2 linked regions of the Homo sapiens genome follow. The protein of the gene in region 1 interacts with the protein of each later gene in a pairwise test. Each region holds a gene or a part of one and is shown on either strand. Other genes may lie near its edges.

What was found. Proteins that work in one complex are often made in the same cells at the same time.
Region 2: the proteins of DDX19B (region 1) and CTIF interact in binary tests that used the Homo sapiens proteins (3 or more experiments, as listed by UniProt).

Annotation. Positions count from the first base shown.
Region 1 is NC_000016.10:70,329,860-70,335,805, forward strand, and holds the end of DDX19B (ATP-dependent RNA helicase DDX19B), read left to right. Parts: coding exon 1-209; intron 210-1,862; coding exon 1,863-2,025; intron 2,026-3,108; coding exon 3,109-3,300; intron 3,301-3,661; coding exon 3,662-3,723; 3' UTR 3,724-5,446; downstream 5,447-5,946. UniProt on the Homo sapiens protein: ATP-dependent RNA helicase involved in mRNA export from the nucleus.
Region 2 is NC_000018.10:48,534,103-48,542,168, forward strand, and holds the start of CTIF (CBP80/20-dependent translation initiation factor), read left to right. Parts: upstream 1-4,928; 5' UTR 4,929-5,210; intron 5,211-5,585; exon of another isoform or gene 5,586-5,729; intron 5,730-5,900; exon of another isoform or gene 5,901-6,235; intron 6,236-8,066. UniProt on the Homo sapiens protein: Specifically required for the pioneer round of mRNA translation mediated by the cap-binding complex (CBC), that takes place during or right after mRNA export via the nuclear pore complex (NPC).

The DNA of each region.
Region 1 (5,946 bases):
TTTTCTCCGCCACCTTTGAAGACTCTGTGTGGAAGTTTGCCCAGAAAGTGGTCCCAGACCCAAACGTTATCAAACTGAAGCGTGAGGAAGAGACCCTGGACACCATCAAGCAGTACTATGTCCTGTGCAGCAGCAGAGACGAGAAGTTCCAGGCCTTGTGTAACCTCTACGGGGCCATCACCATTGCTCAAGCCATGATCTTCTGCCATGTGAGTAGCAGTGGCAGTGGCAGGCCTGGCCCTTCCCTCTCAGCCAGCTCCCCACAGGGCTCAGGAGGACTGGATGCCCCTGGGTGCCATGGGAAGAAACGAAGTGGTTTGTTCTCCTAAGGTTTTAGTGAGTCGTAAGAGGGAGACTTTGATTCCACTTCTTAGTGATTACTTGGAGAAAACCCCAAGTAACAGCCAATGAAATAATTTTTAGATTTTTAAGAATATAAGCTGGGCGGCTGGCACGGTGGCTCATGCCTGTAATCCCTGCACTTTGGGAGGCCAAGGCGGGTGGATCACCTGAGGTCAGGAGACCAAGACCAGCCTGGCCAACATGGTGAAACCCCATCTCTACTAAAAATACAAAAAATTAGCCGTGCGTGGTGGTGTGCACCTGTAATCCCAGCTACTCAGGAGGCTGAAGCAGGAGAATCGCTTGAACCCGGGAGGTGGAGGTTGCAGTGAGCTGTGATTGCTCCATTGCACTCCAGCCTGGGTAACAAGAGCGAAACTCTGTCTCAATACAAAAACAAACAAACAAACAAAAAACCAACAACAAAAAAAGAGTATAAGCTGGGCAAGTACCTGTAGTCCCAGCTACTCAAGAGGCTGAGGTTGGAGGATCGCTTGAGCCCAGGAGTTCAGACCAGCATGGGCAACATAGTGAGACCTCATCATTAAAAATATATATATGGCTGGGCACAGTGGCTCACGCCTGTAATCCCAGCCTTTTGAGAGGCTGAGGTGGGGGGATCTTCTTGAGCCCAGGAGTTCAAGACCAGCTTGCACAACATAGCAAGACCCCATCTCTACAAAAATTTTAAAAATTAGCCAGGCGTGGTGGTGCATGCCTGTGGTCCCAGCTGCTTGGGAGGCTCAGATGGGAGGATTGATTGAGCCCAGGAGGTTGAGACTGCAGTGAGCTGTGACTGTGCACTCCAGAGTGGGCAAGAGAATGAGATCCTGTCTCAAAAAATTTAAATTTAAAATAAAATTTTAAAATATATATGTTGTTTGTTTGTTTTTGAGATAAGGTCTTGCTCTATCATTCAGGCCAGAATACAGTGGCATGGTCATAGCTCACTGCAGCCTTGGCTCTTGTTACTAGGGCTACAGGTATGTGCCCCATGCATGTCAGCCTAATTTTTATTTTTATTTTTGTAGAGGTGGGGTCTTGCTATGTTGTCCAGGCTGGTCTCAAACTCCTGGCCTCAAGCAATCTTCCAGCCTCAGCCTCCCAAAGCCTAAGACTACAGGCACGAGCCACCATATCTGGCAAGAACATAGACTATTTAGGAATGAAGATCTTTGGCTAAAGCCACACTCTTCCTAGATACAAAAGTAACAGCAGTTACATAACTTATCTAAAAAGAAAAAAATCATATGACTAAAATTCTATTTGAAAGAAAAATTTTTTTTTGAGATGGGTTCTTGCCATGTTGTGCAGGCCAGCCTCGAACACTTGGGCTCAAGTGTGTAGCTTGGACTACAGGTGTGTACTACCATGCTTCATTGAGAAATTTTAAGCCTAACCTCCTAACTGGATTTAGCAGGGCCTTCATGTATTTTAATCGTGGCAAGCCACTTTTTAGCAGTTGTCTTCCTTTTGTTTTTAACAGGTCTCTTCATAAAAAACAATTCTTTTCACTACAGACTCGCAAAACAGCTAGTTGGCTGGCAGCAGAGCTCTCAAAAGAAGGCCACCAGGTGGCTCTGCTGAGTGGGGAGATGATGGTGGAACAGAGGGCTGCAGTGATTGAGCGCTTCCGAGAGGGCAAAGAGAAGGTTTTGGTGACCACCAACGTGTGTGCCCGCGGTGAGCAGAGGACGTGTCCCACCTGGTCTGCCAGGCTTGGGGTCCCAGGCCCAGTTAGAGCCAGAAATCCTTGTACACAGGGAAGTCGGATGGTCTCAGGGAGATGGGTGGGGTTGGTGACACTATTCCTTTCTAGGAGAGACTGTTTGGATTTCCCTCAGGTGATAAGAACTCCCACAGAAGCCAGGAGTCCTGACTTGGTGGAAGGAAATGTACAGGCATCTGACTGGTAGAGAACAGAGCCTGCTCTTCCAGGGATGCCCATCTCCAGAACATTGTGTCTCCCAGAGGCTTACTGACTGATTTCATAATTTTGTTGGCACCTGCCAAAGTTTTGTTCTTTTCCTCCAGGTTCTGCTGTATGCCTGTATGTGCCCTCTCTTGTACCCAATTCCCAGAGTTGGCCTGTCCCAAATGTATTTATTTATTTTTTTGAGACAGAGTCTTGCTCAATGGCCCAGGCTGGAGTGCAGTGGCACAATCTCAGCTCACTGTAACCTCCGCCTCTCAGGTTTAAGTGATTCTCCCGCCTCAGCCTCCCGAGTAGCTGGGATTACAGGCGCCTGCCACCAAGCCCAGCTAATTTTTGTATTTTCAGTACAGATAGGGTTTTGCAGTGTTGGCCAGGCTAGTCTTGAACTCTTGACCTCAGATGATCTGCCTGCCTCGGCCTCCCAAAGTGCTGGGATTACCGGTATGAGCCACCGCACTCGGCCCCCCAAATTCTTTCCCTTTACCCGAAGTTGGTATGCATTGACTTACCTGTGGACAACAGTGATTTTTGTCTCCTGTCCTTACTTCTCTCTGTCTCCAACTCTCAGGGACTCATTCATCACCTCTCCCTGCACCCCACCCCCTGACCCGTGCTAGTTTGGTATCTATGCCTGTAGCTTTGCTTTGGGGCATCATCTGAATCTCATACTGCACGGCCTTTCAGATCTGGCTTCCTGCACTCAATGTCATGCACGTCTCTTAGTGCCGTGTTCCCTTAATGCTGAGTCATGCTCCATTGTATGGATGGACCACATGACTGATTTGCCTCCTGTCCTTAGTCCTCTCAGCCTCCAACTCTCCTTCCTGCAGGCATTGATGTTGAACAAGTGTCTGTCGTCATCAACTTTGATCTTCCCGTGGACAAGGACGGGAATCCTGACAATGAGACCTACCTGCACCGGATCGGGCGCACGGGCCGCTTTGGCAAGAGGGGCCTGGCAGTGAACATGGTGGACAGCAAGCACAGCATGAACATCCTGAACAGAATCCAGGAGCATTTTAGTGAGTCCCGGGGAGGGTCCTGTGCCTGGCGCCCTTTGCTAAGTAGGGCGGGGTGGTGAAAGGGGTAGGATCTTCTGTAGCCCCAAGAGAGGCTCTGTCCCTAGCACACTCCCCTCCTTTCTGACCATATGGCAGTTCTCAGGGAGCACACCTGGAGACTTCAGGACCCAGGGACTCCAAGAACAGCTCCCCTGTGACTGGGCTTCGGGGCGTGGGGCTCTGACTGTTGCTGTCAGTGACTAGGGGCCCTGCTGCCCCCTGCTTAGGCACCCGGAGCCTTTGGGGCTGAATGAATGATTGCTGTGGCCCAAGATGGGGCACATTCCTGGGCAGGGTAGAGACCTGTGTATCTTTCCCCCAGATAAGAAGATAGAAAGATTGGACACAGATGATTTGGACGAGATTGAGAAAATAGCCAACTGAGAAGCTCCACCAGCCACTGATGCCAGCCCTGGCACTGCCCCTGCACAGGAGACAAGTGCGTTCAGGGCACAGGCCCCGACATCACCCCAAGGACAACGGCACAAGTAGAGAGAAACTACCTACCTCACTTCAAATTATGTTTGGACTTGACAAAAATGTATGCAAATGATGGGGGATGGTAGAAAAAAATTATTTACACAACCTTGGAAGATTAGGCATGAATACACAGAGATTTACCTTTTGGAAGTTTCATCTTTTAATTTGGCCAGTGTTTCCTTCATGCTAATCTAGATGCTGTGGCTGATTACTTGCCCAGGATCTCCTGTGGCAGCCTCTGCTTGTTCTCTGGCTTGGAGTGGATGGGGCAGCCTCCAGCTCCTGTGGAAGTAATGGAATAGTGGTGGAAAGGGAACACAGAGAGGGAGGCTTCCAGTAAGATAGGTGTGTAAGCCCAGCCATCATGTTTGGAATGGCATGAGGCAGCAGAGGAGGCCTGAGAGCTGCTGCTTTGGACTTGGGGGTGGGACAGCTCATCTGAGTATTGCCAGCCCCCTGTCCTAGTGCCCACAGCAGAAGGGAATTTGTTAAATAAGCATGGACCAAAATGCCAACCTCTCGGTTGTGTATATGGGTTTGTGTCACAGGACTGTGACCTGTTCTCGGTGGGTGCAGTCTGTGTAGAGTGCACATCTGATTATTGGTGGGTCCTGTGCCTGTGCTTAAGCAAGTCCTGTGGAGAAGTCATCATGGAGAATTAGTGGTGGCCCTAGCGTGCCACAAAACCTGGTCTCATGAGCATTTGCAACATCCCTTTTACATCCTTAATATCCCCTTACCCCACAGTAGCCCCAAACAAATGTGATCTGAGGTTTAGATCCTCAGTGAAAATTGTGGTTTCAAGTCTTCATGGCCAGCCTCAAGGCAGTTCTAGATGTGATCAGCAGTAGTCACAAATTCTTGTTTTGTCTCCACACCCAGAAGGCAAGTTTTGTCAGAGCTGGGGAATAATTTCAGATATTTGACATCTTGATTATAAAGGGCTTCTGAACATCTGTGTTTACTGCCTTTGGAATACAAACAGGTGCAACTGAGGGACTAGCTACACTACCACCATTTATCTGTCCAAGGCAAGAGTATCACCAAGGCCTTTGCTCCAGCCTTACTTGGCATCTTTGCGCAAGATAGTCAGAGCAAACAATAGTAATGGACACTTCTCACACCTGGCCAAGGCTGTTGGTACCCACGAAATGACAGCAAAGATGAGAGGAAACTGAATTGCAAGAGCAATATGAAACCCCAACCAAGAGGAGTACTCTGCAGTTCTTTGGCTTTGGTATAGAGTGGCCACTTTCTCTAGGACCTGGAAGAAGAGTTTGATGGCTAAGAACGATTGTGATCCTAGGTCTTCTTTGTACGCATCTCCGTATTTAGGCCAGATCTGCCTCCTGGGAAGGGAAGGGGCCAATGTCAGCCTCCAGGTGATTTCTTTAATCTGACATTACAAAGAGACCAACAGACTGCCAATTCTACCACATTCCCCTGGTGGGTACTCGACTATGTAGTTTTCTCTATGCTTCTGGTCAACTCTGACACATCTTGGAATTCTTGTAATAAGAAAAGAAATTTTTATACTTTTTTCTCCTTCCCTGAGTCCTGTGGACCAACCCTGAAATACTAAAAACAAGGGCAATAATTAAAGAAGTATAGACTCTTTAGTAGGCCACAGGCAGAGCAGACTCCCACCTTCTCAAGCACATACAACCTCTCTACTGGTGTAGCCCCAAGTGTGAGAAGGAAAGTGGGAAGCGGGGTGCTGCAGACTCTTTGACAGCAGGAGGAATGGGAATCTGGTAGAAGTATAGGTCAACAGTTCTTTTTTTTTTTTTTTGGAAACGGAGTCTCACTCTGTTGCCCAGGCTGGAGTGCCGTGGCACGACCTCGGCTCACTGTAACCTCTGCCTCCCAGGTTCAAGCGATTCTCCTGCCTCGGCCTCCTAGGACTACAGGTGCACGCCACCGCACCCAGCTAATTTTTGTATTTTTAGTAGAGATGGGGGTTTCACCATGTTGGCCAGGCTGGTCTTGAACTCCTGACCTCAAGTGATCCACCCACCTTGGCCTCCCAAAGTGCCAGGATTACAGGCGTGAGCCACCGCGCCCAGCCAACAGTTATTAATCAGGGGTCTTGGACCTCTAAGAATTCACTGGATGGGTTTCATGGAG
Region 2 (8,066 bases), on another chromosome or scaffold:
TATATGGAGTCCAAGAGAGGCATAGTGAGGGAGAACTGAAAAGGTAAGGAACTGAGGCTACTCTAAACATGTCTCTTTCCCTCTCCCTCCTCTTTCCCCCCTCCACTCACTTCTTCTGCTTACTTATCTTGCACTCGACCCACCTAAAACACAAGCCTTGACCTGAGCAGCCATCACCAATGAGCAGAGAGAGGTTTCTCAGCCTCTTACTTCAGATTCTTACAAGAGGAATTCTGATTGGCTCAGTTCCTCTGATGGAGCCACATCCACTCAAGTCCAGCCTAGCCCAAGATCCCATAGATCGGGTGTATACCTGTGGTGTGATCAGCACTGCCTTCCCCTCCCATTTTTTTTAGAGTGTAGACTGGCAAACAAGGAAACTTGTCTCTTGCAGAGATGTGGGGTGTATCTTTGTCCAGGCCTTCACCATGAACAAGGCTGTGGTGCTCACGCCACCGACTTAGGAGGTCTGACCTTGAACTCTGGGAGACTTGAGGAATGTCTGATGACTCACAGGCTGACATTGAATCAGTCCATGTCCTTAAATCTTGCAAAAGGAAATCTGCTTATTTTATATTCCCTCATGGACTTCAGGGCTTTGTTTAACAAATATTACAAACCTTTCCTGCTCTGCTGGAATTAAACAGCTTAAAATTCATCCTTTTGGCTACTTAATTTTCTTGCTTCTTTTGCCAGTGAGATTATAACATTCTTGAAGGGAGAATTTCAGGTGTGGTGAAGATCTTAGAGATCATTGAGGCCAACCTTCTCATTTTACAGGTGTGGAAACTGAGGCCCAGAGACAGGAAACGTCACACAGCAGGAGAGGGGCAGGTGGGACCCGGGATCCCGTTTCACACACTGTGTTCCCCAGAGTACCTTGCCATGTCTTAGGCACAGCATTGTCCCAACAAATATTCAATTGCTTTATTTCATATTCTGCTTTTGCTTTTCTCAAGCTCATTGTTCTCTATTCACATCCCTTCTCTACCACCGACTTCAATCTTAGGGGATCACTTTGCATGTGCCTTTCAGGTGTTGGTCTTTGGGGTTGTGTAGTGGAAGGTGAGATGAGGCATGGGTGAAATTTCACCTGGTTCTATCAAGCTGTTATCTCTCCAGGCCAACACCACGGTAACAGAGCGTAGACACTAGACTACCAACTTCCTTCCTTCTGCACTGTCAGTGGCCTCCAAACTGCATGATGAAGCCACTCTCTAGCTCCCACAGTAAGTCACTAGTTCTGCAATGCCTCCTGGGCCAACACCGCATAACAGGAATTTTGGCCACTGCTGACCTTCTCCCAGTGGGAAGTAACAAGTGGATGTAGCCCCACCTTCCTCCCAGAAGCCTTCTCTGATCCTTGTAGCCGACTGGGAACTCTTAGTTCATTTGACATCACTCTCACACAGTGGAGCGCTTCATTCATTTTCCTGTTATCTGCTGGGCATCAGCCTGGTCTCAGCTCCTGAAGGTAGGTAGCTTCTCTCCCCCAGCACCTACCTAGGCTCCCACCAGGCCTTCAGTCAATGTGTGGACTGACCAGTAACTTTTCCCTGGAACAGCTATGGCTACGGGGGTGAGTGGAGAGAAGTCATGGCAAGAAAGGAGAACTAGTACTTTTTGCTATTATCTTAGGCAAGTGTGAATGAGGAGAAGCAACTCCTTAAAACAAACAGAAACATTCTGACTTTTCATTTCTAGGCAGACAGGGAAACTCCTGGCCACTCAAAATCGGTCACAATTAAACCAATGCTAGCATCATTTGCTTCAGGAATCTCCAGTTCCTTCACTCTGCACCCATTAGCTCTTCCGACCCAAGCCTGCAGGTTGGGCATGAAATCAATCCCAGAGCAGAGAAGGAACAACAGACAACGGGCCACATAAGCCCCAGGCCTCCCACCTGGGGGAACTCTGGTCTGAGGCATCTACAAGGCCTTCCCCTCAAAGATCCCCATTCCAGCCTGAAATGCCCATCATCAGAGGCCACTGAAGAGAGCGCTCAATAAGAAGACAAAAGTGTCAGAGTTAGAGGAGAGAATCAGAAGAATATCTTATATGTTAATGACAGTTTATTAGACTGGAGGTAGAGCCCAGAGCCAGGCACTGAGGATGTGGAAAACAGGAGGGAAGTTTGGGTGGGCAGGCAGCAGCAATGCAAAGCCCCAGGCACTGCCCAGAGGAGGCAGCATTAGGTGGGGCAGCAGGGTAGGGAGCAGAGGAGCATGAAGAACTTTAGCTGATGTGGGTTAAGAGAGCTAGGCCAGGAGCAGGGGAAGGTTAGAATTGGGTCCAGGTTCCTTGAAGACAAACCTAACTGATTTCACATATTAAGATGTGTCACCCTCAGGAATCCTTCCTGCACTACTAGCTCTGCTGGTGTGAGTCTGCAGAAAGAAAAATTCAGGGATCATTTTTGAGGGCCAGAAAGACTCAGGACAAGAAAGGGCATCAGCCATCTTTGAGCACTTTCCATGTGACACAGTCAGCATAAACCCACGATCACCACTGGTTCTCACAAGGCCAAGAAAAGTTGTTGAGTAAGTGGCCCAAGGTCATCCCTTATGAATGTTAAGTAAGCTGCCCAAGGTCACAGAGCCAGGACGTATCATGCCTGGGATTCAAACCCAGGGGTCACACTGACACCAGAGCCTGTGGTTCCCACTGCCCCCTCACCCTAGGTGCATACCCCAAACGGAGGTGTGTGCTCTCCGTGGAAGCTTCACGTTCCACATGTTGCTCAACCTCTAGCCTCTCCTCACCTGAGGGTGCGATTTAAGCAAAAGCAAAGCCAAAACCCAGACAATTTTATTCTTATTTCCTTTGCAGGTGGCATGCCTGTCACACAATATGTAAAAACCAACAATGACAACAGGGTAAGTAAATGGGAATTTGCTGAATGTGTATATTCCAGTATTATTATATAATATTTTGTAAACCCAGGAAATTGTCCAGATGTTAAAGCATACAAATAACTCACTGCTGAGCCAATGAGGCATAAATGCTAAGAGGGACAAACCAACGGGAAGAGTCAGGTGTGCTTAAACCTGTTGCTTTGGAGTGGACGACGGTTGCCTGCCACCCAGACAACTGGCCTCTAGTACCCACTCTGTACCGAATCATGGCTGGGCATGAGTTGCTTAACTCTCTGGGCCTGTTGCCTCCCTCCTGAAGGGAGGGAATGACAGCCACCATGGCCTTTGGTACAAGAATCAAATGAGTTGTTCTATAGGATGTGAATGTCTATGCTGTTCTGTGTCTCAAGCCCGGGAGACAAGTTCTCCACACAAAACAAAATCCCACCCATCCTTCAAGGCCCATGCCACTCTCCATGGCTAATTTTTTAAATTTTTTGTAGAGAAGGAATCATGCTATGTTGCCCAGGCTGGTCTTGAGCTCCTCAGGCTCCAAAACTGCTGGGATTGTAGGCCTGGGACCTTTCGAATTAGCTCTCTTCTCTCATCTGAAGCCTTTGTACCCTTTAACCTTAATCAGGTGCTTATCCTTTCCTCTCTCTTTGTTAAAAATCTTAGAAATTCTTGCCGGGCACGGTGGCTCAAGCCTGTAATTACAGCACTTTAGGAAGCTCAGGTGGTGGATCACGAGGTCAGGAGATGGAGACCATCCTGGCTAACACAGTGAAACCCCATCTCTACTAAAAATACAAAAAAAAAAAAAAAAAAAAAAAAATTGGCCAGGTGTGGTGGCGGGCGCCTGAAGTCCCAGCTACTTGGGAGGCTGAGGCAGGAGAATGGCATGAACCAGGGAGGCAGAGCTTGCAGTGAGCCAAGATCACGCCACTGCACTCCAGCCAGGGCAACAAAGAGAGACTCAGTCTCCAAAAAAAAAAAAAAAGAAAAAAAAACTTAGAAATTCTTTGCTCAAGTATCACTTCCTCCAGGAAGTCTTCCTGACCCTCTCCCAGACCCCACCCACCCTCCATCCAGTTGGCTGCTCCAGGTTGTGTGGTGGGGGGAATTTCACAGCACTTTGTGTTAAGCGCTGACTTATCCCTTGTATAATACTTTCATTGACTGTAGTCCCTAATACTGGACTGAGCTCCTTGAGCGCAGAGACTGTGAGTCTTACCTGTTTTGGCATTCCTAGACACACCTGGTCTGTGGAAAGTGCTCACTAAATGTGAATATAAACTAATGAATAAATGGGTTTCTACAGCAGTTTATACTGCATCACACAGTTCCTCTAATGAATTTCTAGCCCCCTTCCCTGTTGGGGCATACAGTATTTTATTCAGTATTTCTCCTGAAGGCCTCTCTGTGCCAAGCTCAGTTTTAACCAAAACATTGGTGATCTGGTTAAGTCATTACTGAATTATCCACTACGTTGAATTCTCCCAACCACCCCGTCCCAGCCCTTAGCTTGGCCGAAGGAAAATTAATTGGTTGCAAAGTGCGTATCTAATTACAACAGCCAGCCCCCGACACAGAGATGCTCAAATGTTAATTATAACATATGCATCTCAATAACCGACGGTGGCATTTAGTGCAGCATTAATCACGCCACTTGGGCCCCCCAGTGCATACACAAAGCTCCTTTTCATCTGCCATTAGCACAGACTTTGCACTTTCGGCACGGACGTTCTCATCCTTAAAGCCTTTCGGACTCTAAAACCAACGTTTCCCTGTAAGCCTGGACTGCGCCTAAGCCCCCAGTTCTCCCACCGCAGAGGCCCCCACCCAGGGCTGCGCCAGCGCCGTGGGGTCGCTGGGCGGCGGGTTTTGGCGTCGCTAGACTGGGCTGTCTTGGCAGCTAAGGCGACATCCCGAGCGTCCTGGGGCCACCCTGCTCTCCAGGGCCCGCCATCCTGGAAAAGAAAGGCGAACTACATTACCCAGCAGGCCTCCAGCCGCCCTCTTTCCTTTCAAGTCTTTGCACGTGGCCGGAGGGGAGGGCGGGGCCTGAACGTCACTCTCCTACATTCTCTTTCCCTGTGTCAGATCAGGGATCATTTTTTTTCCTTCCTCTACTCCCTCCCCCCTACCCGCCCCTCCCTCCCTGTTTCCCTTCCCTCCCTCCCTCCCCTCTCTGCTGGGTCTGTGCGCTGGGGCGCCCGATCCCCTCCGCAGCTGGGACGCTCCGAACTCGAGGCAGGAGTCGGCTCTCCGGAGCCTCGTCCCTCCCTTCCCCTTCCCTGCCCCCTTCCCCCACCCCCGACTCGGGCTTGGCGCGGCGGCCAGAGGAACCCCGAGGTGAGCATCTCCTCGCCCGTCCTCCTCTTATAGTCATCTCAGCTTGCTGATCGATTCGGGGACCCGGGAGGAGGGCTGCGTGACGTGGGCGTGCTTATAGATAAATCCGGGAAAACCGCCCCAAACAATCAGCCCCCTTCCCCCCATCCCTGCTCCTGGGCCAGCGGGGTGTCCGCACCCATCTACCATCCCCTCCTCCCCCTCGGTGGGGAACTGCACTCCACAGTGTCGCCCCCTCCCTGGGTTTGTCCCATTCCCTGCCGGGTTCCCCGCCCCGCGGGGTGTCGTGGCCCTGGAGCTCCGGCGCCAAGGGGGGCTCTTGGGGGACGCACGGCTGGAGCCCGGCTCGCTTTGGAGCTGCGCGGTGTAGCCGCTGTCATGTGCCGGGTTCCGACCTGGGAGGAGGAAAAGAGCGAGCGCGATTCCTCTCCCTTTTGTTTTGAAGCCCGCATTTGCTGCATCGAGCAGTTGGTTTAGTATCAGCCAAACTTGCAGCTGTTCAGACCGCGCTCCGCCGAGGTAGGGAGCCCGTCTCGGGGTGGCGTTTGGGGGCCGGGGGCTGCGGCACTCGGGGCTGCGGGAGGGACCCCGAGAGTGTGTCGCCACGCCGCCCCTCCCTTCCCCGGTGACTGATTGTGTCTGTGGCAGCGGGCGTGTGTGAGTGTGCGCGCCCGTCCCCGCGGGCTCGGGGATGTCTGTGGATGGCTGTCGTCTAGACAGGGCGCAGCCCCCTCCCTGCGTCCCCGGTGAGCCCGCGGGCCGCGGGGGGAGCGGGGGATGGGAGCAGAGGAAGAAACCAAATCGGTGGACCCGTTGCGGTCTCCCCTTTGGTTATTCCCAACGGTTGTGGTTCTGTTGGCTTTTTTTATTATTCCTGTCGCTGCGGTGCAATCGGGCCTGGGGAATAGATACGCCCGGCGGAGAGGGGTTCACTTGACAGGCTCTGAAAAGCCACCTCTGGGTGGCGAGTGACCCGAGAGGCCGTGGGGTGGGCTCCGGCTCGGGTTCATCAGGACGACGAGCAGGTAACTGTCCCGGGCGCCGGTCATGGGGGAGGGCGGGCGGGGGGGCGATGGCTTGGGCTGCGGCGAAGGTCTGGGGCCTCGGAGGGCCGCGTGCCGGTGCCTGGATGTGGCCGGAGGGGGCGTCCGGGACACCGCGCGCCTGAGCCGAGTGTTTCTCTATTGATGGTAAAAGACAATCGGGAGGGGGGTGGTCCGAGCCCGTTATCTGGGCGGCGTTGGCTCTGTTTGGTTCCGCGGAGTTTTCAGGGTTGGGGCTGGGGGGTGTGAGCACCGCGGGGTGTGCGGCGTGTAGAGGGGAGGGCTGACTGGCGGCGCCGCGTGCGTCTCCACCCCGAGGAGTGAGGCGTCGCCTCCCCCGCCCGGCTGTTTGTGTGTACACACGGCTCCGGTGTGTGTGGGGGGCGGGGACCGCAGACCGCGGCGTAGTGGGGACAAGCGTGGGCCCCGATCCTCCGCGCGACCTGTCCCGCCAGCCCCCTCCTTGTCTAAGTCGGGGTCGTGTGTCCCCGCGCGCGCGCGCCCGAGTTACTTGGAGAGGGGACCGTGCGGCTGTGGGCCGGGGAAGACCGTAGGGTCGCGTGTGCTGGTCTTCGGTGCAGGAGTCCCAGGTCCGCTGTGCGGCCGGAGTCACACAGCCCCTCCCTCCGCGTCCGCGACGCCCCGTGACCCGGCAGACTGGGGGTCCACCCGGCGGCGCGGGGGGTTGGTTTGGCTGCGCCGCCCCCAGTCCACGCTGGGGTGACCCCGCACCGAGGCGTTCTATGGGTGTGCGTGCCCGCGCTCGCCGCCGCTGCCTTCGCAGACCGGGGAGAGAGTCAGCGACTGCCAACCGCAGCCCCGGCTCTTCAGTCTGGGGACAGTGGGAGCCCAAGCCCAGCGCGCCCCAGCCCGGCCCAGGCCGCCGCCCGCCCGGCGCTGTGTCTCTGCGGCCCGAGGATTATCCCCCAGTCCAGGGGCCCGCGCGACCAAGGAGGAAGCCGCTGGAGCCGCCGGCTCGGCCGCGGCTAGAGCCTCCGTAGGGCGAAAGTGACACAGCGCGAGAGAGCGCCGCCGCTGCTGGAGCCAGGGCCGAGAGGAAGGAGCCGCCCAGAGCGCAGGGAGGGGCCGCCGGCTGTCCGTTCCCAGTTCCTCCTGCCCAGGGCCCGATCTGGGCTGAAAACCTCAGGAATCCAGGCTCCTAGCAGGCTCGGGCTGCGCGAGGAGATGGCCTGGCTTTCAAGAAAACCCAATTATACGTGAACAGAATGCACCGAACAGACGCTAGAGGATGGCCAGGACACGCTCAGGTTGTCTGGGGAAACTCCTGAGTGTTTGACACAGGATTCGATTTACACACAGATCACCTCATCTGTGTCAAGTATCTGTCCTGGATAATGGATGCTCAGAGGCAGCAATTTTGTAACACATTCTAGGGCACAGTGTCATCAGTGATTAACAGCTTGCTAGAATAATAATATGTTTGTATGACCTTACAGGGCAGGTTTTCTTCCCCCAGAACCTCCCCCCTCCCCCGCCAGATATCATAGCATTTATTAAGAGGGTCCTGTGAGGTAGGAGAGTATTAGCCCCATTTTACGGATGAACACACTGAGGCTCAAAAATGTGGCTTGCATAAGGCCTCTGGGTGGGGGAAGGGCCACATTCCCCCTTTTCTCAGCTTATGGCATTTAATTAATAGTGGCCACTTTTTTTCTGAGTATGGATTCTTGACACCTCAGGAAATACTGAAGCTAAAAAATAGAGTATATTATGCTGACACATATTCTTTCTCAAAACACTCTTGATTTGTTAACCATTCCTAATGAGAGCAGCCACTAAAGAACGGAAGTCT